5 separate regions of the Homo sapiens genome follow, and regions 1, 2, 3 and 4 are each linked to region 5. Evidence: fine-mapped expression QTL. A gene starts in region 5. Each other region holds a variant in brackets. All regions are shown on one strand. Distances are between the middles of the regions.

Region 1 (5,101 bases), 61 kb before region 5:
CAATGGAAAGGCTGAAAACAAACTCCCTGTCCACCAACAATGACTTGTTAAGTTACTCTACCACATCCATGCACAACCATAAAAAAAAGAGTCCCCAAAGGAAAAACTGTAAAAGCTAGGTGCTAAAGTAACTACAGTATACAGCCATTCATGAACAAACATTAAGCAAAAGAGAGTATCTATAAATGTACTTCATTTTGTGAACTCAAAATTCTTGACATATTTTATTAAAACTTGAGTAGACAGTAGAGAGAGCTGCCATATACCCTACCAATACCACCTGCACATTCCCCGCGATTATTAGCATCCTACCTTACTACGGTATGTTAGTCACAATTGGGAACCAATACTGACATTACTGTCATTAACTAAAATTCTAGAGTTTAGGATTTCCTGAAGTTTCCCACTAATGTCTTTTACTGTATTCCAAGATCCATCCAGGATCCCATCCAGGAATTCCACATCACACTTAGGTGTCGCATGTCCTGAGATCCCTCCTGGTGGTGACAGTTTCTCAAAGGATGCTTGTTTCTGATGACCTTGGCATATCGAGTGGGCCTGGCAAGAGTAGACTGTAGGAAGGGTGTCTACTGGAATTTGTCTGATGTTTTTCCCATGGTTGGACTGGGGCTATGGGTTACTGAGAGGAAGACCACGGGGGAAAGTGCCATTCTCATCATATGAATTGATTTTTAAACACATGGACTAGAATTAACACACACCCACTCCACTAAACTGGTTTTACTGAACAGCAGGTTGTCACACAAACGGCTCCAAGGGAGGGAGTGGAGGAAATGGCAAGGCTCGGAGACACTGCTGTCAGATGCACGTGAGACTCAGCTGTACTCACCGGCGAAATAAACGTTTTGGCTCCGGGAAGGCAGAAAACGTCCACTTTGAGAGAAACTCACACCCTGCATAAGCCACTAACCGGTGGGGACTCCCACGCCACACATCGCACCAATACAAGCTCCATTCACAGAAAACCCCACTGCAAGTCGGTTATCGCTGCAAACTTCCTCTCTCTAACAGGAAGAAATCAGGACTCACGGGAGTAAGCAAAATGAGGCCTAAATCCGGCAAGCGAGGAAATCAAACACTTCCATCTTAATCACATATTATAGCGATGAGCAACCGAGTCAGATGGCCGCTGCTGGGTTTGACATTTTGTGGCTCTTCCTTTCCTCTGAGCTCCCAACTTGCTTCCAAGAATGAGGATAAATTAACATCCACATATCTGACCAGAGCCAACTTCTGCTCCCAAACATACGGCGACGGGGGAGACAGGATGCACCCAAAGTGGCCCCTGGCTGTGCGTGACAAAGCTTTCCAGGAACAGAGCGAGCCAGGCAGGACAACCGGCTTCGGCTGAGATCTGCAGACTGGGCCCTGGCAGAATAAATGAGCGGACTGGACCCAGTCCAGGCTCGGGACAATTACAAATAGCAAGAGAACAAGAAATGCTGGCTTGTTTTTGTACACTGCTATCTCTTCGGGGGCAGAAAGACAAAGAAAAAGGGGAGAAAGAGGTGGATCTGGTCTGGAAATCCCAGGAAAGCCAGGCCATGCAGAAGGCATCCCCCAGCACACCGAAAGCCAGGGAATCTGCAGCCTTGAAGGTGAGGCTCAGCCCCGCCCACCAGCCAGGTGCAGAGGCTGCTCAGAGAGCACAGGCAGGTACTCCAGACAAGCACAGAGAGACAACTCCGCTCCCAGCTGGCTTGGTCTGTGCCACCAGCTGGACGTGTTTTATCTCAGTCCCAAAATGCACGGTTTCTAGACCTCCCGTGGCACCTCTCTCGCGACTCAAAGCCAGTGCAGTGAGTTCCTGGAGGCCCATGCAGCTTCCTATCCACCACGTCCCTCACCACCCTCTAATACAACTGGGGCAGCGGCAGCCTCTACTCGTTACCCTCTCCTCCCGCTTCCCTTCATTCCATCAGTGCCCCAAAATCCCTATTACAGGAGGCCTTGTCTGACCCCTGCAGCAGCCCAGTTATCCCTGAGATTCTCACACCGACCTTCGTCCAACCCCCTAGTGCAAACATCAAATGACACCTATTAAAATTGACACACTAAAAGAACGGCTGCATCTGAGCTCAAAGTTTATTCACACTGAGCTTTTAAAATCCAAAACTACCATTTGATGTTCAAAATTTAAATAGCCACTACATAAAATAGGAAAAAATAAATTCCTTTTATTTTTCTAAGGGAGTTCTCCAAATCCTCAGCAGCTGCTATGAGATTCCCGTGGATTTTTAGGTACAAAGTTCAGACTGAGAGGACCACAGTATTCAATGAGATTCTGAGCTCAGTCCATCCAGAAGATTCCATAAGCATCCAAGGCAGAAGTGAGATTCAGCCACCAACCACATTTCAAAAGCCACTGGTGGAGGATTCCAGAGCAGGTGTCATCCAGGGCTCAGGGCCTCCAGGCTCCCCCCAAGGCTGAGATTCTACCAAAAGCGTAGGTTCGGTTCCCCAGTGGCTGAGTTTTGTTTCCGGAGAGCATGTGTGTTAAACTGACTTGAAAGGTATCCAAAGAAACTGTGAAGGCAGAGGTCATCTGTATTTAAGAAAACTATGTATTTAGTTTACATAAAATCAGAAAATACAGAATCTGGCTTTGAAGAAAACAATGGTAAAGATGTTATATTGACAAGTAATTTTAACCAATGTCTCTGAATGAATATACCAACTCAGATACATCAGCCACCTGCTGTTCCTATCCAGGTGAAGGCCGGCTGCCCTGCCCTCCCCTTCTGTCATAAGAGGGTCTGGGGTTGCCTGTAAACACAGGGCTGCCCCACTGCTCACTGTCCCAGTGAAGTCCTTTGCTCTGCCAGTTTCCATCAGCTGCAGGGCCAGGTGCCGACAGAAGGCAAAAGTCAAAGCCCAGTATCTTTCTAAAGAAACAGGGCCCGATGAAAGGAAGCAACCTCAGCCCCAGGAGGCAATGGGCCCAGTCCAGGTCACCCCGGACACAGAGCCACCCCTGGGCAGTGATCTCCCAGCTCCTGCCCCTGTCCATTCCCCAGGTGAAGCCTAAATGCTCTGATCTGGACATGGGTGAGGAGCACCAAAGCCATGCTCTCTCGGGTGATGTGAGCAACTCA[A/G]CGGAGACCTACGTTGTTCTTTTGTTCATGAAGATAGTACTGAAGTTTGAAATAACATCCCTCAGCAGAGCTCCAGAGCAGAATCTTCCCAGAGAACCACACATGTGGCCCGCGGCCCCCTGCAATCTCCTGGCTAAGGCATTAAAAACACCATCTCCTTAGAAAATGCAGTCCTTGAGGCCACACCCATGCAAATCAGTCCACCAAATCCACTCATAACAGCATCCAGGTAACTTCCAAAGAAATGGAAACACTGATAAACACAAGAAACACCCTCCCCACATGTGATTCTCATGCATCAGGTCCTGCAGACCACAGAGAGTTCAAGGAAACCGCAGCCAAGAACCAAGAAAGCCACATCCATGCTCAGGCCAGGGCCACCGGCCTTTGTGACTGCTTCCCTCAGCAGAAGTGCTAGCAGCTGAGTAGGGAGACATCAAGACATCATGACAGAAAGAGGCTGGGGGCCTGAACACAAAGCAAGAAGAGTGGGATGTGTCCCCACCCCAGATACCCTCCTAGTTTCTAACACATTCAGGCCAGGATGGTCCCTGCAGCAGTTGGGGCATGGGGTCCTGCTGGTGCTGCTGCTCCCTCACCCCAGGACACCCCAGCTCTTCCCTGAGCCTCAGCTACACCAAGCCAGTCACAGGGCAGTGAGCTCAGCTGTTCACAGTAGGCTGTGCAAGCATGGACACAGCCCCACCCGTCTTCCTGAACCATCGAGAAATTACGTCTTACCAAATCCTACTGAGGACTGGCGAAGAACAAAAGGGAACCAAATCACAGATAGATGTGAAGGCAGATAGACAATTCAACTGTTCTCAGAAGCTACAGAGGGGCCCCAGTGGGGGCAGCCCCACTGAGCTCCAGTCTGCCACCCAAATGCCTGTTGGTGCATCTCCTAAAGGCTGGGCTGCATGGGACAGAGGAGGACCATGGTGGGGTGTCAGCACTTCCAGGCTGGGTACTCCATCGGTGCTGCTGCTTAGAGATGCCTCTGTACCCTTCCAGCTGTCAGATGGCCTCTGCACCTTATCATTCTGTTACAACAGCCTGGACATGGAGACACACACCATCTCTCAAAAACAGCCTTTGGGGATGCTCACGTGTATGTTTGTGTTCAGAAAAGAACCACCTGCCTTGAATGAAGCATCTGCTTCAAAGCCACAGGGCTCCCCGTGCTGAGGGCCACACTGAGAGGACATCTGTGCCCTGCAGTCCTCGGCCCAAGTCCACCCCTCCAGGCCAGGCACCCTGGCCCCATCCTGATGCTGCAAGACCAAGGATGAGAAGCCCACCAGAGATAAAGGGCACTGAAGATCTGGCCCCCTCTTCAGCAGTCACACCCTAGTCCCTGTCACTCAGAAAACTGGGCTCACTGCAGCACCCACTAAACATCTCTAAGGGGATCCTAACCTCCCATCTCCACCATCATCAGAGCCACCATTACCATCAAGGACTCGGCTTTCAACACGTACAATGCATCGGGCACTACAAAAACTAAAACTCCTCATCTCTCTGGTTTACCAACGAAAACCTCTGCTTTCCATGTCTCCAGTTTCCCCTAGGGCCTCCTCAAATGTTCTAGAACTCTTTTTATCCACTAGTACATCAGAAAGAAAAAATTAACCTTGCCTTCCTCCCTCCCCGATCCTTTCACAAAAACAAGGCAGTGCTATGGAAGCACATGAGAGAGACGTGGGGCGAAGGCCGCCTTTGCTCCCGCACAGCCACATTGAGACTGCAGGTGTTCAGGCAAAGACAGGGCCAGGCAGCACCTCGGTGAGCCTGCAGCAGGAAGGTTTGTGTTGTGCAGTGTCAGACCGGGATGAGGAGACAGGGCTGGAAGAATCAGCCCCACCTGATTTGGATTCAGTCCATGTGAAAACAAAGAGTGTCAAGAATTCTGCATCACACTACCTAACAGGGAGGGAGGAACTTCCCCTCAATACGGCCTTACCCTAGATGTGAAGAGGTGAGAA
Region 2 (5,101 bases), 80 kb before region 5:
CGACAGAGGGTCCTCAAGCAATGCCAGTCGTTTGACTATAACACTGGTGCACTGGTGAGAAAAATAACCTTGGTTTTATTCTGTATTATTTCACTTAAAAGTCAGTTTCCAAGAACCTCCTGAGGTTAATGAGGGCTTCCCGTCCTGAATGTAGCAAGAACGGTGACACTAGATGACCATTTCACTTAAAAGTCAGTTTCCAAGAACCTCCTGAGGTTAATGAGGGCTTCCCGTCCTGAATGTAGCAAGAACGGTGACACTAGATGACCAGTAGCCACCACCACGACAACAACAGACTCCGACAAAGAACCATCAATGATGCTGAGACTTGTGGGTCAGTGCTCGGGGAGTAGCAGGCTGTCTGCACAGTCCCAGATTATCTCCCTACCAGATACCTGCTAATTATGCAGGAAACAATGTAACTTCACAGTGGAAACACCCGCCAGCATCACCTTCACTGAGAGCTTCCGGGCAGCATCAGCAGCAACGAAATACTGCGGTGGCCGCCAAGCCCAGCGGCATCACTGGAATCCAATCACGAGGAAACATGCCGAAATCCCAAGCTGAAAAACATTTTACAAAATAGCTGCCCCTACGCTTCCAAAATGTGAATGTCACGAAACATAAAAATGACGAGGAGACTGTCCCGGAGCAAAGGGGACTGGGGAGGACGTGAGAATTGAAGGCCCTGCAGGGCCTGTCATCTGCTGTTGATAACGAGACATCACTAGACTATCAGCGAAACATAAACAAGGCCTACAGATGAGAGAACAATGCCTGCTCGCTGTTATTTTCCAACTCTACTCACTGACCGTAGTTGAAGAGTGACCACGCTTATCTGAGGCAACATGGCCTGGATTATTAGTTGGGGGAAGGCATCACATCTAACACTAACTTTCAAACGATTCTGAAAAAAAAAAAAAGGATGCATATCAATAAACAGTAATTCTTTGGACTATTTTTTGCTGATTTTCTGTAAGTTTGAAATTACAGCAAAATTAAAAGTTAAAAAGAAAAAAGTTAAGGAATAAAATTCCCCATTATTATTGGAAGACACTAATCTTCAGATTCAGGAAGTCCAAAAAAATATCAACAGGGGTAAGTGAAAACGCTTACAAAAATGTAGAACACTAAGACTACAAAACACCTAGAGAGACACAACGGATTCCTGCCAAGGAACGGAACAGCCCCAGTGGAACTGAGTGAACCAATCACATCCTCAGAGCCCTGGGGAAGAGCAGCTGCCTCCCCAGCACTGTCTTCTGTGAGGGATCATTCAACAATGAAGGAAAAGGAGGCAACTCTCAGACGAACAAAAAACGGAACTTCTGCAGGAATTTCTAAAGGATATTACTTCCAAAGGATATTACTTCCAGAAGAAAAGTAAGAGCAAAAAACCAGAATATCTGATATTCAACAAGAAACAGCAAGCAAGTAATATCCACATATAGGAAACTTTAAGGAGCAGTGGCCATAGGAAGCTGTGACAATGAAGGCAGCACACGGCCGCAGCCTCCCGTTAGCTGCTGGAAGGAAGCCACACACACCCAGATATTTCAATTCTGCAAATGATTAAGAAAACGAAACCAACAACAAACATAAAAATGGGTGACCCATGTCAGAAGACACTGACAGCCACAGCAGGCTGGCGGTCAGGCACAGGCCAGGCGAGGGCCACCTCCCGGGACCGAGCAAGGCGCCCTGGTCAGCCTGAAGACACTGGCACTAGGTCTAAGACGGTGTGGCCGTGCTGGAGGTCACGCAGAGTTAAAAGTAGCTTACCCGTGACCCGGCACTCCCATTCCCAGGCAGGAACCTGGCAAAGACCCAAGTTTGCGTGTGTCAGAAAACACACAAAAGAATGTCCACAACATCATGTTTGAGAGCAGCCACATCTGAACATGAATCAAAGTTGTGAAAATTCACAAAATTGAATGCAAGACACTAATGAACACCAGTCACCGACAGCTACAGGCAGAAACCTGGTTCTCAAAAACAGTCCTGCCTGAAAAAGAACCCACGAAATAGAAAACGTATAGTATAATTCTATTTACATGAAGTTCAAAAACATAAAACTAAAATCATATTGTTTAGGAACATGTGCATGTATGATAAAACTTTTTTTTGGAAACAGCAGAATGAAAAGCAAACATGTAAATGTCCTTGTAGTGGTCTCTGTCTCACAGAGCACACGGTCACTGCTATTGTATTGCTTTAAATGATGCAGATAATGTCTATGAATTGTTTAATTCTTTAATTAGAGATTTATAATTAAAATTTAAAATAAATGCGTGTGGAGGGGATAAAAACAGAATGACTAAGCGGGCTGAGAAAGTGATAAATCACCTGTAATCCCAGCACTTTGGGAGGCCGAAGCAGGCGGATCACCTGAGGTCAGAAGTTCAAGACCAGCCTGGCCAACATGGTGAAACCCCGTCTCTACTTAAAATACAAAAGTTAGCTGGCGTGGTGGGAGGCGCCTGTAATCCCAGCTACTCGGGAGGGTGAGGCAGGAGAATTGCTTGAACCTGGGAGGCGGAGGGTGCAGTGAGTCGAGATCGCACCATTGCACTCCAGCCTGGGGAACAAGAGTGAGACTTCATCTCAAAAAAAAAAAAAAAAAAAAAGTGATAAATCAAACAAACAAAAAAATTTAGAAGGAATTATAGAGAATGGAATGCTGATCTCCACCAGTGACAAATGACATAGGTAAATCTAAATTTGCCAAATATGGAAATAAGGAAATTGGTAGGACTCTTCTGTTA[T/C]GTAAAAATATGTATTTTAATCAAAACTATTTTGCTGTTGAACTTTTCTAGCTATTAATTATTGGCAAATACAAAATCCATGATTCTAGTGGGTTTCTGATAATCTATAAAATTTTCTGAATCTTTTTGAGTCTTTTTATGTGAATTTATTTTGGTTCTTCCCATCTTAATGAAACTGCTGACATCTCAAGCCATACTGAACACATGTGCTACCGTAAGGTCAACCTCAGAACACAGCTCTTGTTAAGACAAGGCCTCTAGAGTTTTCCAACCATGAAAAAGATTCATTTTTGCTTTCAAATGATCCCCAACTTGTAAGAACTACATATTCTCTCCAACTTGGGTATTTTAAAATCAATTATGAAAACTGAAATAATTATTTTATCTAATCTTTTTTATTTTTCAAAACATTCTCTCATATTTACATGATTTATACCGCTTTCCTTGTATAACAACTGTCCTGTAATAAAACCTTTGATAACGAATAACTACATAATGTACTGTTATTTTCTTTTCCCCAATATTCTATTCAGGGTTTTAAACCTATGTTTACAAACAAAATGTGCTTATAACGTTTGCTTTATTATTGTCTCTTGCAGGTTCTAAAATCAAGATACTCTAAGCTTCATAAGATTAGCTTGCAGCCAGGCGCAGTGGCTCACGCCTGTAATCCCGGCACTTTGGAAGGTGAAGGTGGGCGGATCACGAGGTCAGGAGATCGAGACCATCCTGGCTCACACGGTGAAACCCCGTCTCTACTAAAAATACAAAAAATTAGCCGGGCGTGGTGGCGGGCGCCTGTAGTCCCAGCTACTCAGGAGGCTGAGGCAGGACAATGGTGTGAACCCGGGAGACGGAGCTTGCAGCGAGCCGAGATAGCGCCACTGCACTCCAGCCTGGGTGAAAGAGCAAGACTCCGTCTCAAAAAAAAAAAAAAAAAAAAAAAAAAAGGTTAGCTTACATTTTTCTGTGTTTTGAGCCAATCTTAAATAAGGTGAACGTGTGTAAATGTTGGAAAAATATTACATTATCCCTGAAGGAGTAGCAGCTTTCAACAATTACCTAACTGGGTCCTTTGTGGGGTTCTCAGAAGTTCTTCCTTTTAGTGACAACCAACTCATGCTGCTTCCTGTCAGAGTACAGGATGCTTTTCTTCTAAGGTCTGACATTTTATAGTTACTTGCTCTGGCCCAGTCAAAGCCCTCCAAAGCCCTGCCATAGAGCACAGAACATCACAGCTCCCGCCCACACCAGGACTTCCCCTAGACACTGGCTTCATCATTCTCAGGGCAGCATCTATCCCTGATGGCACATCCGGTTGTTAAGGGGGAGGGTCTTCACTGCGAGTCGTCCAGGTTCTTGACATGTTGAACAAAGAATTGGACAAAACACACAAACAAAGCAATGAAAGAATGAAGCAACGAAAGCACAGATTTGTTTAAGCGGAAGTACACTCCACAGAGCAGGAGCAAGCTCCAGAGCAAGCTGCTCAAGACTCCCACTTGCAAAATCTTCTGGGGGTTAAGTACCCTTTAGAGGTTTCCTACTGGTTACACCCTATGTAAATGAAGACTTGGCTCATGACCAATCAGAGGCCAAAGTGAAGTTACACCCTATGCGAATGAAGACTTGGCCTGCAACCAATCAGGGGCTGAAGTGAAAGCTCAGCCTGCAACCAATCGGATGCTGAAGTGAAGGCCCCCTGTCTCCAGATCCTATTCTACTGCCTTGCAATGACAAGTTTAGGGGAGTAAAGCCTTACACTTCAGAGCGCAAGCTCACTGGTTAAGAGTCAGTTGCTTGGCACAGCCCCTTGGGCCAGTGACTTCCTTTCTCAATGCCTCTGTTTTCTCATCTGTAAAATACAGATGATGTAAGGTTAGTAGGACCCATCCGTAGGCTGTTGTGGGGATCACAGCTGTAAATATGTAGAAAACACTTAGCAAAGTGCCTGTGCAGGGCAGACTCCATCACTGCCAGCCATATTTACCATTATGTAGTTGTTTATTTACCCATCTACTGTTTGACTTTCCCACTGGCACTGGGTGTGGCAATGGGTGGGGGCTTTTCCTGTGTGGTTCACCAGTAGACCCCAGTGCTTACAGCAGCCTGGCATGTAGCAGATGCTCACAAGAGGTGTCTTGACTGGCTGAGTGCTGGTGTGTGGACGGGAACCAGCCTAAGGAAAGCACTCTTGAGACTCTTCATCCTGCCCGGGTGTGGGTAGCCTGGGTCTGTCACTCGGCCCCACACCCGGGGCCCCACTCCTGGCTTCGATAAGCGACGTCACCAATGTCTGCCCCAGCACCTGGACAGACTCTTGTGGCCCTTCCTTC
Region 3 (5,101 bases), 220 kb before region 5:
GACACAAAGACAGTGAAGAGAGCGTGAAATGGTACAACCACTTCAGAAAACTGCTGGGCACTTCCTTATAAAGTTAAATGCACATCTGCCCCGAGACCCAGCAATCCCATTCCTAGCTATTTATCCGAAACACGGAAGCACACCCACAAAAAGCCTGTACAAGAATGTGCATGGGAGCTCTGGTCACAGACCAGCCTTGATGCAACCCACATGTTCCCTCGAAGGTGGACACTTGGAGAAATGATGTGTGTTCATCAAAGAGAATACCACCTAACCATAAAAAACAACAACCTACGTGTACACAAGAAAACACAGGTGAACTGCTAAACAGCAGGTGTTGGCAGAGGGTGAAAGAGCAGAGAGAAGAGGCAAGACTGAAAGACCCTCCGCTGAGCCTCTGCACTTGCAGCTCCAGATCCGCACATTCCACCACAGCCTGGTGTGGAAATACGGGTGGTTGGCCCTCAGTGTCTCCAGGCTCTGATCCTCCGCTGGCTCAATCAGTGGAGGTGAAACCCAAAAATATGGAGGGCTGACTATATTCACATGAAGCCCTAAAACAGAAAAAACTAACGCACAAGGATGAAAATCAGAAGAAGGCTGCCTCTGCGGGGGTGAGGTAGGGTTGGGGGTGCCGAGGCCGGAGGAAACGCCCCAGCGGGTGGAGTGTCCGACCTGTTGACTGTCTACAGGGAAGGGCACAGCCACCCAACAGCACCCTTAAGGGCTGGCATTCTACCGAGTATAAATTATATCTCATATTTCAAAAACTGACGTCGACATAAAATGTTTGTCTTAATAACAAAAGGCAGAAGGTAAAAGAAAAACTGCAGTATTTATGACATACAAATTTTATATAAATGGTTGTTATCCATTAATGAGAACATGACAGGCAGCCCACTAAAACGTTGGGCAGAAAAGAACAAGATGCACAGAAGAACTGTTTAAAAAGAAATCGGGATAAATGTTCAAGCTCACTAGTGAACACTTCCCATTTCACTCACGGTATCGGAAAAGGTGAAAAGGAACAATTTGGCCTGGCGCTGACGAGTGTGGGAAGGTGCAACTGACCAGACGCCCTGAGAGGGACTCCCGCAAACCCAGAGCACCTCTGTCCTGGGACCCAACCCAGGCTCCAGGGCTCCCGCACGTCCTTCCGCTCCTCTGAGATGGCTCCGCTCTCGTTCGCATGCTCCAGGGTTCTGTCTGCACACACTTTCCTCGGCTTCCACACAAACCCCTGGGCCAGCCCGGGGGAAGTGCCAGGCCTCCACAGGTGTGAGGAGCTCTGCCACCTGCCTGCCTGGGAGAGCCTCTCTGCCACCCTCTGTGGCCGCACGTGTCCCGGTCATGGTCTGTCTGCTGTCCCCAGTGATTGTTCCGTTACCAGTTGTCTCTTGTCCCAGTGTCTTGTTTATTTTAGACATAGGGTCTCGCTCTGTTGCCCAGGCTGGAGTGCAGTGGCGCAATCATAGCTCACTGTAAGCTTGAGCTCCTGGGCTCAAGTGATCCTCCTACCTCAGACTCCCAAATAGATGGCAGTTAATTAAAAAAACAAAATTGTAGAGAAGGGGTCTTGCTATGTTGCCCAGGCTGGTCTCGAACTCCTGGGCTCAAGCCATTCTCCCACCTCAGCCTCCTGAGTAGCTGGGACTACAGGTGCACACCACTGCACCCAGATACGTTTTCTTCTTTTTTGATGAAACAAGATCTTGCTCTGTTGCTGGGGCTGGTCTCAAACCCCTGGGCTCACGTGATCCTCCCGCCTTAGCTTCCTAAAGCTCTGGGATTACGAGCGTGAGCTGCCTCACCCGGCCACTGGTGGGTTGCTTTTTGTTGGTCTTGCTCCCCTTATGGAGGAAGAGGGGACGGTGAGAGGGTACGGGATAAGCAGGCATCCTGGCAACCAGAGTGGCCCGAGGAACTTTCTGTGGAGGAAATTTAGTGAATCAGGGGCTCCGGGCTGGCTCCAGAGTGGGGCTTCCACCAGCTGGTGATTCTTCCTGGAGGATGAGGCTCAGGCCAGGGAAAGGATGAGCAAAGCATAGAGTGGGGTGTGTGTGCGAGGCAGCCACCGGATGCCCGAGGCATAGAGTGGGGAGTGCGTGCGAGGCAGCCACCAGACGCCCGAGGCATAGAGTGGGGTGTGTGTGCGAGGCAGCCACCGGACGCCTGAGGCATAGAGTGGGGTGTGCGTGCGAGGCAGCCACCGGACGCCCGAGGCATAGAGTGGGGAGTGCGTGCGAGGCAGCCACCGGACGCCTGAGGCATAGAGTGGGGTGTGCGTGCGAGGCAGCCACTGGATGCCTGTGCTCCATGAGTGGCTGCGCTGGCACAGCAGGACTGGCGCCCATGGGATGCCACCCACGTCACACTGTCGTCCCTGTGTATTCTTCAATCCCTCTACGACAGGGGTCCCCACCTCCGGCCGTGGACGGGTAGCAGCAGTCCCTGGCCTGTTAGGAAATGGGCCACAAAGCAGGAGGTAAGTGGCAGGCTAGGGAGCATTCCCGCCAGAGCTCAAGCTCCTGCTGGATCAGTGGTGGCATTAGATTCTCACAGGAGTGTGATCCTGTTGTGAACTGTGCGTGTGGGGGATTTAGGATGCATGGTCCTTATGAGAATCTAACGCCTGATGATCTGAGGTGGTGGAAGTTTCATCCCGAAACCATTCTCCTGCGTCCCCCACCCCTGTCCACAGAAAAAACCATCTTCCACGAAACCGGTCCCTGGTGCCAAAAAGGTCGGGACCGATTGCCGCTCTACAACAAATGCGCATCACTTCAGAGCAAGAGGTGATAACAAAGGAAAATGAAAAGTGGCTGAGGGGTAGGAAAGCAGATGAAAAGGATTACATCGGACGGGCAGAGGCAACCCCGACAGAGTAGGGCCAGCAGGGATGGGGGGCTGGGTCCCTGAGGTGCCACAGCCTGAGAGCCCACGCGGCGTGCTCAGGGTGGGAGGCGGCACAAGCCTTCTGCTACAGGGCTCGCTGCTCCAAGACAACAGGGCTGCCCGCACGGAGGAACCTGCACATCAACGTGCTTGTGCACCCAAGTGTGCGTTCTGAATGTGAGTGAGCGCGTGGGATTGAGCATGTGTGCTCCAGGTAACTGTGAGCGTGCAAGGGCGCTGCCCTTCTCTGTGGGC[G/A]CCAACCTTCAGCGGCGTTGGCAAGGTGACGGGGGCAGGCGGTGTGTGTCCGGGAACATCTCCTGCATCTTGCTGGGTCCTTCTTCACATGAGAGGCCCGAGCCGACTGGCAAGCTTCACACCCTTGCTGCCCCTGCACAGCCAGCTTCCAGGTGGCCACCACACCCTCTCCTGCGAGAGCCTGGAGGTCCAGCTCAGCCCCCGGGCACCCAGCACACACACCTTTCCAACCCCTAGGCTTCTGGGAAGATCCAGCCTGCAAAAACAGCCTGGCCCAAGCCCTTTCATGGTCACAGGCGGTGCAGGGGATGAGGAATGGCCTCACCAGGGCATCAATCCCGTTCCTGGACCTCGCTTCCCACTGCTGAGGACTCAGCCGGTTTCCACGACCACCCAGAACCACTTGTAAATAGGGAAGAAAGGATTTCAGCTTGCTCACAGCCTCTTCCTACTCAAGATGAGACATGCCAGTCACCCCGCATGTCTGTGACCTGTGTGAAATTTGAATCACATTGTGTCCACGATGTTAAACGTAACATCAACTGTGTAATTTTGTAAGGTAAAACTCCTCATTCTTCCATTCTGTAAGTAAAGCCCCCAGCCCAGACAAGGGACAGAGACAGGCATTGGCCAACCAAATGGCATTCGGCAACCTCAAACTGGCGCTGGCAGTGAACAAGCAAAATGAACATGATTGCCCCTCATGAGTGCCCCATGTGGATGGAAGGGTGTGCTGGGCCGCTGCCCCCCATGGCCCACCCCGAGGAAGAGTCCCCAGGCAGAAACCGCCTGCCCCATTGCAGTGACCCCAGCAGATAGCTCTGGACTGAGGCTGCCCCAGCCTCCAGGACGGAGACCACAGCGCTGGTCTTTCCCGGCCCACCTGGGCTGGGTCATTGCAGCCTGCAGCCCACAGCCAGCCTCCCCGTCCACTGTCCCATGGCAGCGGAAGTGGCCTGGATGGCAGAGCCCCACAGGAATCGCTTGGAGTCCAGGGCAGTGGGACCTCGGGCTCTAGGCAGGTCTGCCCAGTCACACCTGTGGTCACACACAGCAAGGATTTACAGCAGCAGAGAGAGCAGATCAGCATCCAGACATTGGGGACAGGACCTGCCGGCTCTCCTCACAGATGAAAAGCCCTGTCCACAAACACGCCCACCCACCTACAGCCCTCACAAGGGGGGTGGGACTCAATTCCAGCCAGGAGCACGGGGATAGAAGAGCTGCAGAGGTGGCAGGAGGTAGGCCCACACCCAAGGAAGGAGGGAGGAGAGGAGGGGCTGAGGCAAGACCCTACCCAGGCAGGTGCAATGCAGGCTTGCCTTCCAGCAGGGGTGCTGCTCCTGGCAGATGTGTGGGCACAGGCAAGGCAGGAGGCCTGGGTGGGCCGAGGGAGAGGGGGCACCCACCACGCCCGGCAGCAGCGTGTGCGCAGGAGGGGCAGGGAGGGCCGTCAGGGCTAGCTGCACACACCAAGCATCTCACCTGTATCTTTCCCATGGCAAAAACTTAATTCCGAACAACCAACTTAAATGAACTTCTTGGGGATGGTGGGATAAACATAAGCAAGCTCTTGCCGTGTCCTTCATCAGGGCAGCGCTGGCCTCCGAAGACTCACAGGCGGCCCATAGCACGCTGGCTGGAGGGCAGTGCCCAGGCCAGGCTGCCTGGCTGATAAAACCTGCTCCACCCACCTGCTTGCTGCCAGCGCACTTGCACCTAAATATTTAACCTCTCCGTGCTGGGTTAAATGTGGCACCTGCCCCCAAGGGTTCCTGTGAGGACTGGAAGAGGTGGCATGGGGAGAACACTCAGAAGAGCTGGTCTGGGCTTGCCTCCGTGCGGCCTGATTGTCATCAAACCGTCACTTTTGAAAGATGTCGCCTAGAGACGCCGACTTCCTGCAGACACTAAATATCCTAAGGTAAAATCAGGCCCCCTCAAGGCTAGG
Region 4 (5,101 bases), 350 kb before region 5:
AGAAGATACTAGAAATTTATGGTGGATAAAGGATTAGCATCCCAAAATAGATTTTAAAGCTTTCTAGTTCACAGCCCCAGTAATGAAACAAATGGGCGGAGAACAAATGGGCGGAGAAGACAACCCAGGAATCCTTCATTCCATCTGCTTATTGGGGAGCAATGATGTCTTCATCTCTTGGGCTAGAGGAGTAGACCAGCTTCCAACTTTCTACTCTAGCACATGAGATGGACAAACCCAGGGAGGCGCTGCAGGATCTGAGCCTGAGGGTCCTTGGGCCTTGAGCAGAGGAAGCCTCTCCCGTGAGTGTGGGCTGGCCTCCTGCACTGGCTTCTATGCCCATGGAGATGAGGCTATAAAAAGACTGGCTGTGTCTCCTGGTGCATTCTCCACTTGCTCCTAGATCACGTGCTGTGGGAGACGCTGACGGCAAGGCCTCGAGGCGGCCCTGTGGAGAGGCCCATCAGGCGAGGGAAGGTGGCCACCTACAGCCACAGGCATGTGCCTGGAGGCCAACCCCCAGCCTGGTCCCCCAGCAGCTGGGCCCCCAGAGGAACCCTGGCTGAGCATTTGACTGGACCCCCAGGGAAGACGAGACAGGGACCCTGCTGAGATGCACCCAGACTCCGGACCTTCAGAAACTCCAAGGTAATAAATGTCTGCTATTTGAAGCTGCTAAGTTTTGAGGGAATCTGTTGCAAGCAATAGATAACTAATATACTATAACCAGTAAACATGCCAACTGAATCAGTAACAATAACAAAACCACTCCAGCCTCAGTGGCTTCAGGCTCCAAGTACCTCTTCTTATACTGGGGCCGACTGAGCCCCCCTTGCCACAGGGCTATGCCTTGGGGCCAGCAGGGCCCTCTGCTCCAGAGGCCTCTTTCGGGGGCTCAAGGGCAACCTGGGTGCCGTGGGCTGGGTTTCTGGGATGCAGACTGGGTGGGCTTCAGTGTGCAAGGTGGTTGAGGTGTCCTTGGGTTGGCAGCTGTGACAGGGGAGGAGGGAAGGCAGTCAGCCTAGGGAGGGGCTCAGGCACTTTCCGGGAAGCCAGCAGGCCTTGAGTTGTCCTAAGTTGGGCCAAGGTGGCCTGGTGCTTACGCTGCCCGGCACCCAACTGATTAGTCACTGGATGCGGGAGCCTGGGAAGGGGCGCTGCTGAGGGTCAGGAGCTGTGGCTGGTGTTTGGACTCCAGTCTCAGAGGTGTGTTTGCCCGGCTGTGGGCAGGTGGCTAAGCCTGGGCCCTGGGCCTCTCTCTTTGGCCTTGTTCTCTCCAAGATTATTTCCAGCTCTCTATGGCTTGGTAAGTGTTTTGGGGGAGAAGATAATGTAAAGATTTAAATTACTGGACATTTAAAATGAAGACACTCCTATGGGACCTGATTATGCAGGCAGAGGGGGACGGGCCTGCCGCTGGTCTGGGTCTAGGGGCCGTCCCCATGGGGTCCAGTGATTCCCATGCAGCCATCCGGATGGGACCCAGGGCACTGGCCATTCGGCCCACAGGGTCCCAGACATGCGAGAGCCAATGAGGAAGAGAGCGCACGGGCAGAAACCAGAGCTGGGAGGGCAAGTAACGCAGTCTTTATTTACACCACAAGATAACACGTTGCGTGATGTGGTACAGAATACTGGACTCCAGTGAAGTGGAAAGAAGGTGACCGTCAGAAGAGGATATCATTGGTCGGTGAAAATCCACCCACACAAAACAAGACAAGAATGAGAAAACCAAACACAAAACCTCCAACTCCACTGAGCAAAAGAAAGAACCATCGGGCACGTCCAGACAATCCAAGAGAAACGGATTAAATTACAGAGGTGAATGGTGGCCACGGCCAGTGCGCAGCTCACGGCGGGCGCGAACAGGCATCAGGTAGGTTACAGTGTCGTTACAACTTGGTTTTCTACCACATTCCGTAAGAAGCTCTTGGGTGAGTAAGGTTCAAGCCCCCTGTATAGATAGATAGATAGATAGATAGATAGATAGATTATATATGTTTGTCATTCTCATCAATTGGAAAATAGCGCCTCCACTATGGAGCACACACGGCAAAAAAAACAAACAAAAACTGTTCGCTTTCTTTTTCTTTCAATAGCAGACTTTTAATCAATGCCAGAGACAAAGTGAGGCCGAGCTAAGAACACGCTCAGCTTCGTTACAATGAAGAAATGGTTTCCTTTCGATGCAAAGTATAATTGTAAACCACAGTGCTCGCACAGTTCACGAC[T/C]GCTTAAAGTGAAATCTTAGCCATACATCACCTAAAAGTAATTAAAAAGTCAACACAGCTGTGCGGAAAAGGGGACTCTTTCGAGTCCGCCCAGTTCTCAATCAGAATAAACCGTCACAAGGCCAGTGAGGGCGGGCGGCGCTCGCCTGGCCCGTGGAAGGAGATAAAAGGAAACAAACAAAACAAAACAAAACAAAATTCCTCCAAATCAACTCGAGAGAGACAGGCAGTTCACTGTGAATTCTGAGTAGTTTCCCTAAAACACTGTTTCCACATAAATACAATAAACTCTATTATTGGTATGTCACAAGTGCTAGATAAACTTTTTTTCTTAATATGACAAATGTTTAAGTAGTCCTTTTTATTTTTCTTACAATAAAAAGTACAATTTCTTAAGAATAAGTTCAATAAGACGCAAACTTCCCCGCCCTCCTCTCCTTCAAGGTTTTGTTTTACAGAAAAATTTCCATCTTTTGTATCTGCAAATGTCATGAGAGGGGAACAGAAAGGCATTTTTCTTCTTCCCCAAAGCTGCCGAGTTTGGCGTGCAAAATCTGTATACAATATAAAGTCATGCCGGTCGTACAGTCCATGCAACCTCCAGGTGTAGGAAACTTAAAAAAATATATTCATATATATTTATATCTATATATTTATATATGTATCAATGCCCATAAAACACGTGGGCCCAAAGTCTACAAAAAGAAGAATGGAATGAGCACGTGGCTGTGACCAGTAAAGAAGGAATGTTCTGATCAAAAAGAAAAACAACAAAGTCCATTGCTAGTGCTGCAAAAATCAAACTTGCTTTTGTGTCAGACCATTACGAAATGGTCCTTCCCCTTGCAAACAGATTTTCAAAAGAAGTAAAGAAAAACTGAAACACCTTGACAAAGTGGCCCTCCAGAACCAGAGCCCTGGGACGCTGGGGAGGGGCGGCCAGTCCCAGCGGGCCACGGCCTCCGGGACAGCCGCCTGCTGGTGGGGCGTGGGCACGTGGGCACGCTGCGGCACGGCGGGAAGCCGCGAGGGCAGGGCAGACGCCAAGAGGCCCAGTGGCGTCATCAGGGTTTCCCTCAAAGGGATATAAAGTGCTCGCTTGCTGACTCCCAGCCAGTGCCCCCAAGGCCTTTGCAAAGGAAGAAAAAGGCTAAAGGTCCAAGGACCCACAGGGAGAACACATGAAGGAACCCTCCCTGACGTGGTCCCGCCTGCAGACGCCGAGGCAGATCCTCTGCCATCTGCCCTGGACGCTTGCTGTGGAGAAGAGCCGAGTGTGTCTTCAAAGAAAAGGCTACACAGTAATGCTCTCAGCACATTTGTGAAGCTGGAGTGAGCTGACAGATGAAACGTGCCTCCCCCTGCCAGGCCTTTGCAGAGGGCGTCTCCATTTGAATGAGATTAGAATTAAGTCCCCCCACTGATAACCTGGCCACTGAGCAGTCCATGTTATCCCATCATCTGCTTAAAAAAAAAAAGTGAGATGATGCATTCCTCCCCATAAGCCACGGCGGGGTAAGAGGGCAGGTGGCAGGATCCCCAGAGGGCTATGCAGAGAATGAGGCCAAGGAGGCCAGAAGAGCCTGCTAGCTGGGCCCTGCCACTGCTCTGTGCCATGAATGGGGAATGGACCAGCTCCTCTTGCCAATCTGGGCTTCAGAGCAAAGAGTGGCCACCAGGGAGGGGAAAGTCAAACAAGTCCCAAGACCGTTCTGCCTGCTCTCAAACCACTGTCTCAGAGCTGACCATCAGCAGCCCAGTGACCAAGTGAATCCAAGAATCTGCACTCATTTGGTCAAAAGTTTGAGTTAATTTCAGAAGCTACCCTGTAAACTTTACCAAACTCCGAAACTCGGCTCTGGGTCCCTCCTGAGCACGGTGTGTCTGAACTTCTGCCCCCAAGTCTGAACCCAATATACACTTTGGAATGAAACTGGTGGCTTCATGTGCTGGAAAATAAGTTACCAGTAAAACGTGACTGTCAGTTACTGTTGAAGAGAAAAAGAGTAAAGACTGGCTGTCCTGGTCAGGCAATCATACCCTCCCTGCAGGTTCACCAGGCAACAAGGGTCCCTGGGTTCCTTGCAGCCACAGGCTCCAAAATCCAGGGCTGGCCACGTGGCTGCAGTGGAAAAACCCAAGTGGGTAAAGAGCCCCACGTGTGCCCCATGCATTGCTGACATGCTCAAAAGGTCTTTGGAAAACTCAAGTTAGAATTCTATCCTGACGATGTGGTCAGAGAAGTTTAAACATGAGTTTCATTAATGCTGACTGCCCCCGGCATCTGGCAAGCCTCCCAGGGTGGCCGGGCATCCTAAGCAACCCTCCCTGCCCTTGCCACGGAGGGGAAAAACACACCACCCCTCGTAATACTACTAGTGTTGAAAGTTAAAAAGAGCCCCTGGGCTTCTTTATACAGCTCCTAGGACAGACCAGGAAAGACACAATCGTTGGTGTCACTCCGAAAAGACCTACGGTCCCTCCTCTCACTTTCTGAAAATAGAATCTGACAGCAACAATTCTGTACGCTGCAGAAAACTCATCGTACAAAAATAAAAACAAAAATAATTAAAAACCTTTGAAAGGTAAAAAAAAATGTACAAGCAAGAATTCAGAAAGGAAAAAGATTTAGACATTATTACCATTCAGAAAATTGCTAAATGGTGAGGAAAAATGTAAAATTCATAAAACAATGCTTATTCAGGATCTTTTTGTGAAAAAATTCATACAAAAATCAACAGCAAATTTATATTCTTTGCTATAAAAACTCATTAGGTACATATGTGCATGAAGGCTTGGAGACGGGAGCGGTTCTGTTAGAAAATAATTAAAATGAAAGTACAAACTTGTAGGGTAGTTGCCCAGTGGCG
Region 5 (5,101 bases):
CAGTACCCGCCTCTAACGTCAAGGCCAAAAACCCAGAGCCCACCACACGGCAGGGCATATGCTGACCACCTGAAATCAAAACAAACACTCCCTCCAAATCCATCCTTTCCGACTCCTTACCCCAGGACAGACTGGGGGCTGCCAACAACAGGGCAGGGGCTCAGTCTCGGTTCCACAGCCCCAAGCTTAGGTGGAGACTGGGCCCCTTCGCCCTTCAGTTCCCCCATCCCCAGCTAGTCATCAATTCTGAGCCTCGGAGGAAAGCCCGGCCACAGCCTGTCGCCCCGCTGCCTCTCAGCAACGGCAGTTCTCTCGGCCTCTGCGGCTCCTTCGCGCCCTACATCAGGTATTAATATATTACTCATGGCAGCTTCTGAGCTATGAAAGCCCAGCCGTTTTCAATAGAGAATGGTATGGATGAATTCTACAGGAGTGATGAAATGTTTCTTCTGCTCCGGCAATTAAGACAGCATAAAGTCGCCTTTCCTTTGGTGCCACCCCCAACATTAAAGGATTGGAATTCAAAGCCATTCATGCTGCATTGAAACCTCACAATGAAGCTGGAGAATGGAAGTCGATTACTGGGCATAAATATGCAGTAGTTAAAAGGAAAGAGTTATAACAAAATTAAACTGCAGCAACCCCACAATGTGTGGAAACTTCCAGCACTAGAGTCCTCCTGGTAAACATCCATAGGGCATTCTTCTCAACGAGGTCTCTGGCCACAGAGTCCAGATGGGCTGCCTGAGCCGCACGTGGCCAGCGTGCCAGGTTGTCCTGTCCATCTTGCTACAGCAACAGCCCCCAAGGCCTCCGAGAATATGGCATTTGGGGATTTTTATTTTGCATGGCTAGGAAGCTGCTGAACACAGAACATTCTCTCTGGTGCAGGGCTCCGAGGCCACATCTGTCCTTCGTCCCTAGGCCTTCCAGGCCCATATGCAGTCCAGTCATCTTCCCTCCACCCCGTCCCCTTAGCCCAGGGCTCCCCCGGGGGCATGCCTGCTGCCAGCTCCCCTTGCAGGAGAAAGAACCCTAAAGAGGGCAGCGTTACATCTGCCTGCTGAGTACAGCCGGCTTCTTTTCTAATTGATTACTGCTCTCTTTAGGATGGGATTTGATCTCTAAAATAAAAGCCCAGAACACAGAAAGCTATAGAAGTCTTACAATGTGTTGGGGTGTGTGTTTTTAAGGCATGAAAATACTTCCCTCCCACACAAATGTGAGTTCTTCTGGGGAAAGATGCCACAGATCCCAGAGAGTAGAATATCTGGGAAAGCCCGATCAGTCTTAAAAATAGGTAATTGAACACAGATTTTAGAATTCACAAGAGCTACCTGAAAAAAAATTAAATTTCACATATTTTTGATATCCAAAACTCCATTCTGATGAAACTTCTAACTCGGTGGCATTTTGCATTTCCAATTATAATAGAGTAATTGTGTTGCCATAGTTACTGCAAAATTCTGCAATAACTTTTGTTGCTTTGTAACTGCTGTAGTGTATATTTGTGTACAAGCAGCTGAGTTTTCTTAATTCGATCTCCCTCCCTTCCACCCTCCCTCTCCCCAGCCACCACCACCACCTTTCCTGGCTAGGTCCTGAAACCACCACACCAGCCTTCTTTGGACAGTCCCGAAAATAATGCACAGAATTATCAGAAGCAATTAAAACTCCAGGCAACCACGATCATATTACAAAAGAAAAAGTGAAACCAGGTCAAGGTGCAAACCTGCCAGTATCCCCCCAGTCCTGCTGGGCTGGCGCTGGGCCAGGACTGTTTACAGGCTTACTCCCAGGCCTTAACTGCTTCGGTGATTTGTGGGAATAAACAGAAAAGCCTGAACAGAGAAAAACGGGGCGGCAAAGTGACTGCACAGGCCCTTTCCTCCCTCACGGAGAGCAAGCAGAACTGCTCTCAGCAAGCAATTAGGTAGGTCTCTACAGTCATGCAATTAGGATTTAGTGAAGAAAGTCATTAGTTTTAAAATAACTTAAGTTTAATTTCTGCAACGCTTTATTTGAAAACTGTGTCACAGCAGGTCAATTTACAACATGCAATAAAGAAAACACTCATATCAGCTGCCTCAAGTTATTACAAATTTTTGATGTGCATTAAATGAGTACACTGGGTTCCACCCCCGGCCTTTCCAACTGATACGCACGGTCTCCTCCTATAACAGTGTCAAATAATTCAACGCTCAATGTAAATACGAGATAATTTGCTTATGATTCCGTGGTGTGTTTTCGCAACGCCGGCAAACGCGGATCCCACCCCCGAGCGGGACCGGGCCCCGTCTCGGCCTGCTGGCGCCCTGCGGGCTGAGCCGAGCGGGTCCCGGGCAGCCCCCCGCCCTCCCGCGACCCCCCGGGCGCTCGCAGCGGCGACGACAAGCGCGGGGCCGCGGACCCCCGGCAGGGACGTTTTTCTGCAAACTCACAGCATTTGACAAAGTTACATAAACGGCGCCCGGCCGGCCCCGGCGCCCGCCCGCCCCCGCCCTCACTCCCGGCGGCCCGGAGCCCACCTGCTCGGGGGGCGCGGGCCCCGCACCGGGAGACGGCGCCGCTGCCTGCCGTGCCCACCCCCGCGCCCCCGCCCCGGCGGGCGAAGCCGCCTCGCGGCGCGGGTGGAAAGGTCCAGAAGGGGCCGGGCGGCCCTGGGGACCGGCGGGTCCCACGGCGCGCGGCCAGCGCTGGCCCCCGCCTCCCACGGCCGCGCGCGGGGCGGGTGTGGACCGGCGGCGTCCACCTGCCGCGGGCTCCAAGGCCTGCAGGCTGCGCGGGGCGCGGGGCGGGCGGCGGACAATGGCCCGCGGGCGCCGGGCCGGGGCTGCGCTTACCGCGGCGGGCGGCGGCGGCCGGCTCTAGCCCTGCTCCGGCGCTCCGCGCCGCATCTCCTCAGCCTGCGCCGCCACCCGCCGGCGCGCGGGCTCGGGCTCGGGCGGCGACAGCCGGGACGCGGCCACGGCGCCGCCGGGGGCCCAGGCTGGGAGGCTGTTCGGGCGGCGGCGGCGGCGGCGCGGGCGGGTGCGCGGGCTCGGGCTCGGGCTCGGGCGGCGGCGGGGACGGTGCTCCGCGGCGGCGGCCCCACAACCTCCCCTCCTCATTCACAAAAAATTGACCCACGTTGAACCATGATGCTTCTCCCCACTCCAGCGTCGAGCCAGGCGGCGATAGGCCACCCCGCACGCCCGTCAGCCGGCCCGGCCCCGCCCAGCCAGCCGGCGGCTCGCCAACCATTGGCTGCGGCAGCCTTGCGTCACCTCCCCTTGCGGGCCCCGCCCTCCCGCCTGGTTTCTAATGAAGAGCTCGTCAATTACGGCTCGGCCCCGCCTCCCGCCCGCCCGCCCCGGGCGCCTGGCCGGCCTTCCATTGGCCCGCTGAAACCTGCGCACAGCCCGTCTGCTCCCACCCCTCGCCCAGCGGCTGCTCAACCGCGGGGCCGGATGCCCTATGAGCGGCAGAGAGGCTCCACCCCTGCCCGCCTCCCCGCACGCGTCCTGGACCTCATTGGCTGCTGGAGCTGCCAATTCTAGAGGGTGGGGCGTACCAAAAGACGCTCCAGGCGCCAGCCGCTGGGTGCTTCGCGGTTGAGGAGGCGCAGGGACCGGGGGCCAGTAGTGGCCGTAAACACGGGCCCCGGCCGTGTCCGGTCGCACTCGGTAGCCCGCATGGCTGCCTAGCGGTCAGCACCGCATGTCTGCGAGCCTAATTCGCGCTTAGAGGGCACACAATGGGGTGCAGGCTAACGCGGGGAGCCGGCCAGGCCTCGCCGCGGCGTCCATCTTGGATACTGGCAGTGGGTCACGTGGTGCTGCGTGCGCACGGAGGCGCAGGGCGGCCCGGTCACTGAGTGCGCAGGCGCCGTGGGCCTCGCCCTGCCCCGCGGCGGGAACGCGGCCGTGAGGGTGTGGGGTGTAGGTCCGCCAGGCCTGCAACGGCTGCCGAGGGTCGTGGGATGCGCTCGCCGCGTCCCTGCTCAGGCGGAGGGAGCCCGGCCCGCCGCCAGGGTCTCGAGTCCGGGTCCAGGCAGGCGTGGAGGTGGCGGGAACGGCGCACCGCCCGGGTGGGCGTTGTTTTAAGGCCGCAGGGCTTGGGAGGCTTGTGTTGAGTTACAGGTCGGCCCGTAGATCCCCGGAAGCGCCTTTGGTTGCCAGCAGGTGTCGGCGAGGGTCTTCAGTGGCCACCCTCCTGGTGGTGATGTTTCCGTTTCTTTCCAACAGGAGTATGACAACTTTTCAACTTGAGTGCACACACTGTCCCCGGAATCCCGCGTTCCAGGGAGGAAGCGCCTTTGACAGCGCGCGCCGGTTCGTGGGGCCCGACGGCGTGGGCCTGTGGTTGCGGACCTGGCGGAGATGCGCGTTCGCTTCGATTGTAGGCCATTCCTTTTAGGAGCTGAGAAAGGATCCGTTTTTACAGCATTCTCGACCTGTGATTCTTGGTGGGGGAAACTAGTTATGTGGATAAAAATACAGTTAGCAAAATAAAAATGCCAATTTTACATTTCCTTAAATATCTCATTAATAATTAGAAAACTTTGGTCATTGCAAGAAATGCTTAGGCTAAACTTAGAAGGAAAGGAATGGTGAATTAGAGAACTTTAAAACAAGATACAGCTGAAGAAAAGGAGAGCAATTACGGGGTTTTGGAGACTTGGCTGCTGATGGAAACGGTGCACTATCTAATTTTCATGTAGAATGAAACAGGGTCTGTAGCTAGCTAACATCTAGATAAGATTCAGTATCATTTGACAGGATTCTCAAAAACATACAATCACGAGAAAATATTAAAACCTGCCTGTAAGTCTACCAAAGTTAGTTTTTCACGTACAAAGAGAAGTGCCTGCGCAAAAAGTCACGTGAAACGAGCTCTGGGATCTAATGCTTGCAGAGGTAATTTTTAAAAAGTAGATTTCCATTAGAAGGAATGGGTAGCCCCATTGCTGCGTGCCATTTAGTCCTCACAGGAGTCCTGAGAGGCACTCCAGCAGAGTGAGGCACCACGCAGACGTTGGGTGGATGGTGCAAGAACCTCACTCGCCATGTCTGGAAAAGAGAAACTTGGCCTGGGTGGCTGTGTCTGCCATTATGTGTCA

Alleles and levels. Alleles are on the strand shown, and positions count from the first base shown. SD is a standard deviation of normalised expression in the study named. Not every link is listed here.
With allele G in place of A in region 3, the expression in esophagus muscle of the gene that starts at base 3,172 in region 5 is lower (moderate effect, 0.56 SD a copy in GTEx).
For the expression in CD4 T cells of the gene that starts at base 3,172 in region 5, C is the low allele of the variant in region 4 and T is the other (moderate effect, 0.70 SD a copy in CEDAR).

Evidence for each region. PIP is the estimated chance that this variant, and not a neighbour inherited with it, causes the effect.
Region 1: its variant is fine-mapped to the expression of HDAC4 in whole blood (TOPMed, PIP 0.93).
Region 2: its variant is fine-mapped to the expression of HDAC4 in whole blood (INTERVAL, PIP 0.91).
Region 3: its variant is fine-mapped to the expression of HDAC4 in esophagus muscle (GTEx, PIP 0.97).
Region 4: its variant is fine-mapped to the expression of HDAC4 in CD4 T cells (CEDAR, PIP 0.95). The same link has a PIP of 0.9 or more in NK cells, monocytes, monocytes after LPS, monocytes after interferon gamma and neutrophils.

What each region holds. Positions count from the first base shown.
Region 1 is chr2:239,336,434-239,341,534 of GRCh38, forward strand. The region is part of intron 2 of HDAC4 (histone deacetylase 4); the gene reads right to left. Among named protein-coding and RNA genes, the nearest start is that of MIR2467, 13 kb to the right of the region's middle. The variant A/G (reference allele first, on the strand shown) is at 3,117.
Region 2 is chr2:239,317,777-239,322,877 of GRCh38, forward strand. All of the region lies in intron 2 of HDAC4 (histone deacetylase 4), which reads right to left. Among named protein-coding and RNA genes, the nearest start is that of MIR4269, 15 kb to the left of the region's middle. The variant T/C (reference allele first, on the strand shown) is at 2,766.
Region 3 is chr2:239,176,867-239,181,967 of GRCh38, forward strand. The region is part of intron 4 of HDAC4 (histone deacetylase 4); the gene reads right to left. Among named protein-coding and RNA genes, the nearest start is that of HDAC4-AS2, 14 kb to the right of the region's middle. The variant G/A (reference allele first, on the strand shown) is at 3,151.
Region 4 is chr2:239,046,603-239,051,703 of GRCh38, forward strand. It overlaps HDAC4 (histone deacetylase 4), which reads right to left. Exons shown (of 27, transcript NM_001378414.1): 27 at 1,566-5,101. Among named protein-coding and RNA genes, the nearest start is that of MIR4440, 20 kb to the right of the region's middle. The variant T/C (reference allele first, on the strand shown) is at 2,232.
Region 5 is chr2:239,397,849-239,402,949 of GRCh38, forward strand. HDAC4 (histone deacetylase 4) reads right to left here and starts at 3,172. Exons shown (of 27, transcript NM_001378414.1): 1 at 3,130-3,172. HDAC4-AS1 (HDAC4 antisense RNA 1) reads left to right here and starts at 3,588. Exons shown (of 2, transcript NR_135575.1): 1 at 3,588-3,688; 2 at 4,227-4,509. RefSeq lists silencers at 2,821-2,990, 3,001-3,440, 3,461-3,580, 3,851-4,120 and an enhancer at 4,251-4,380.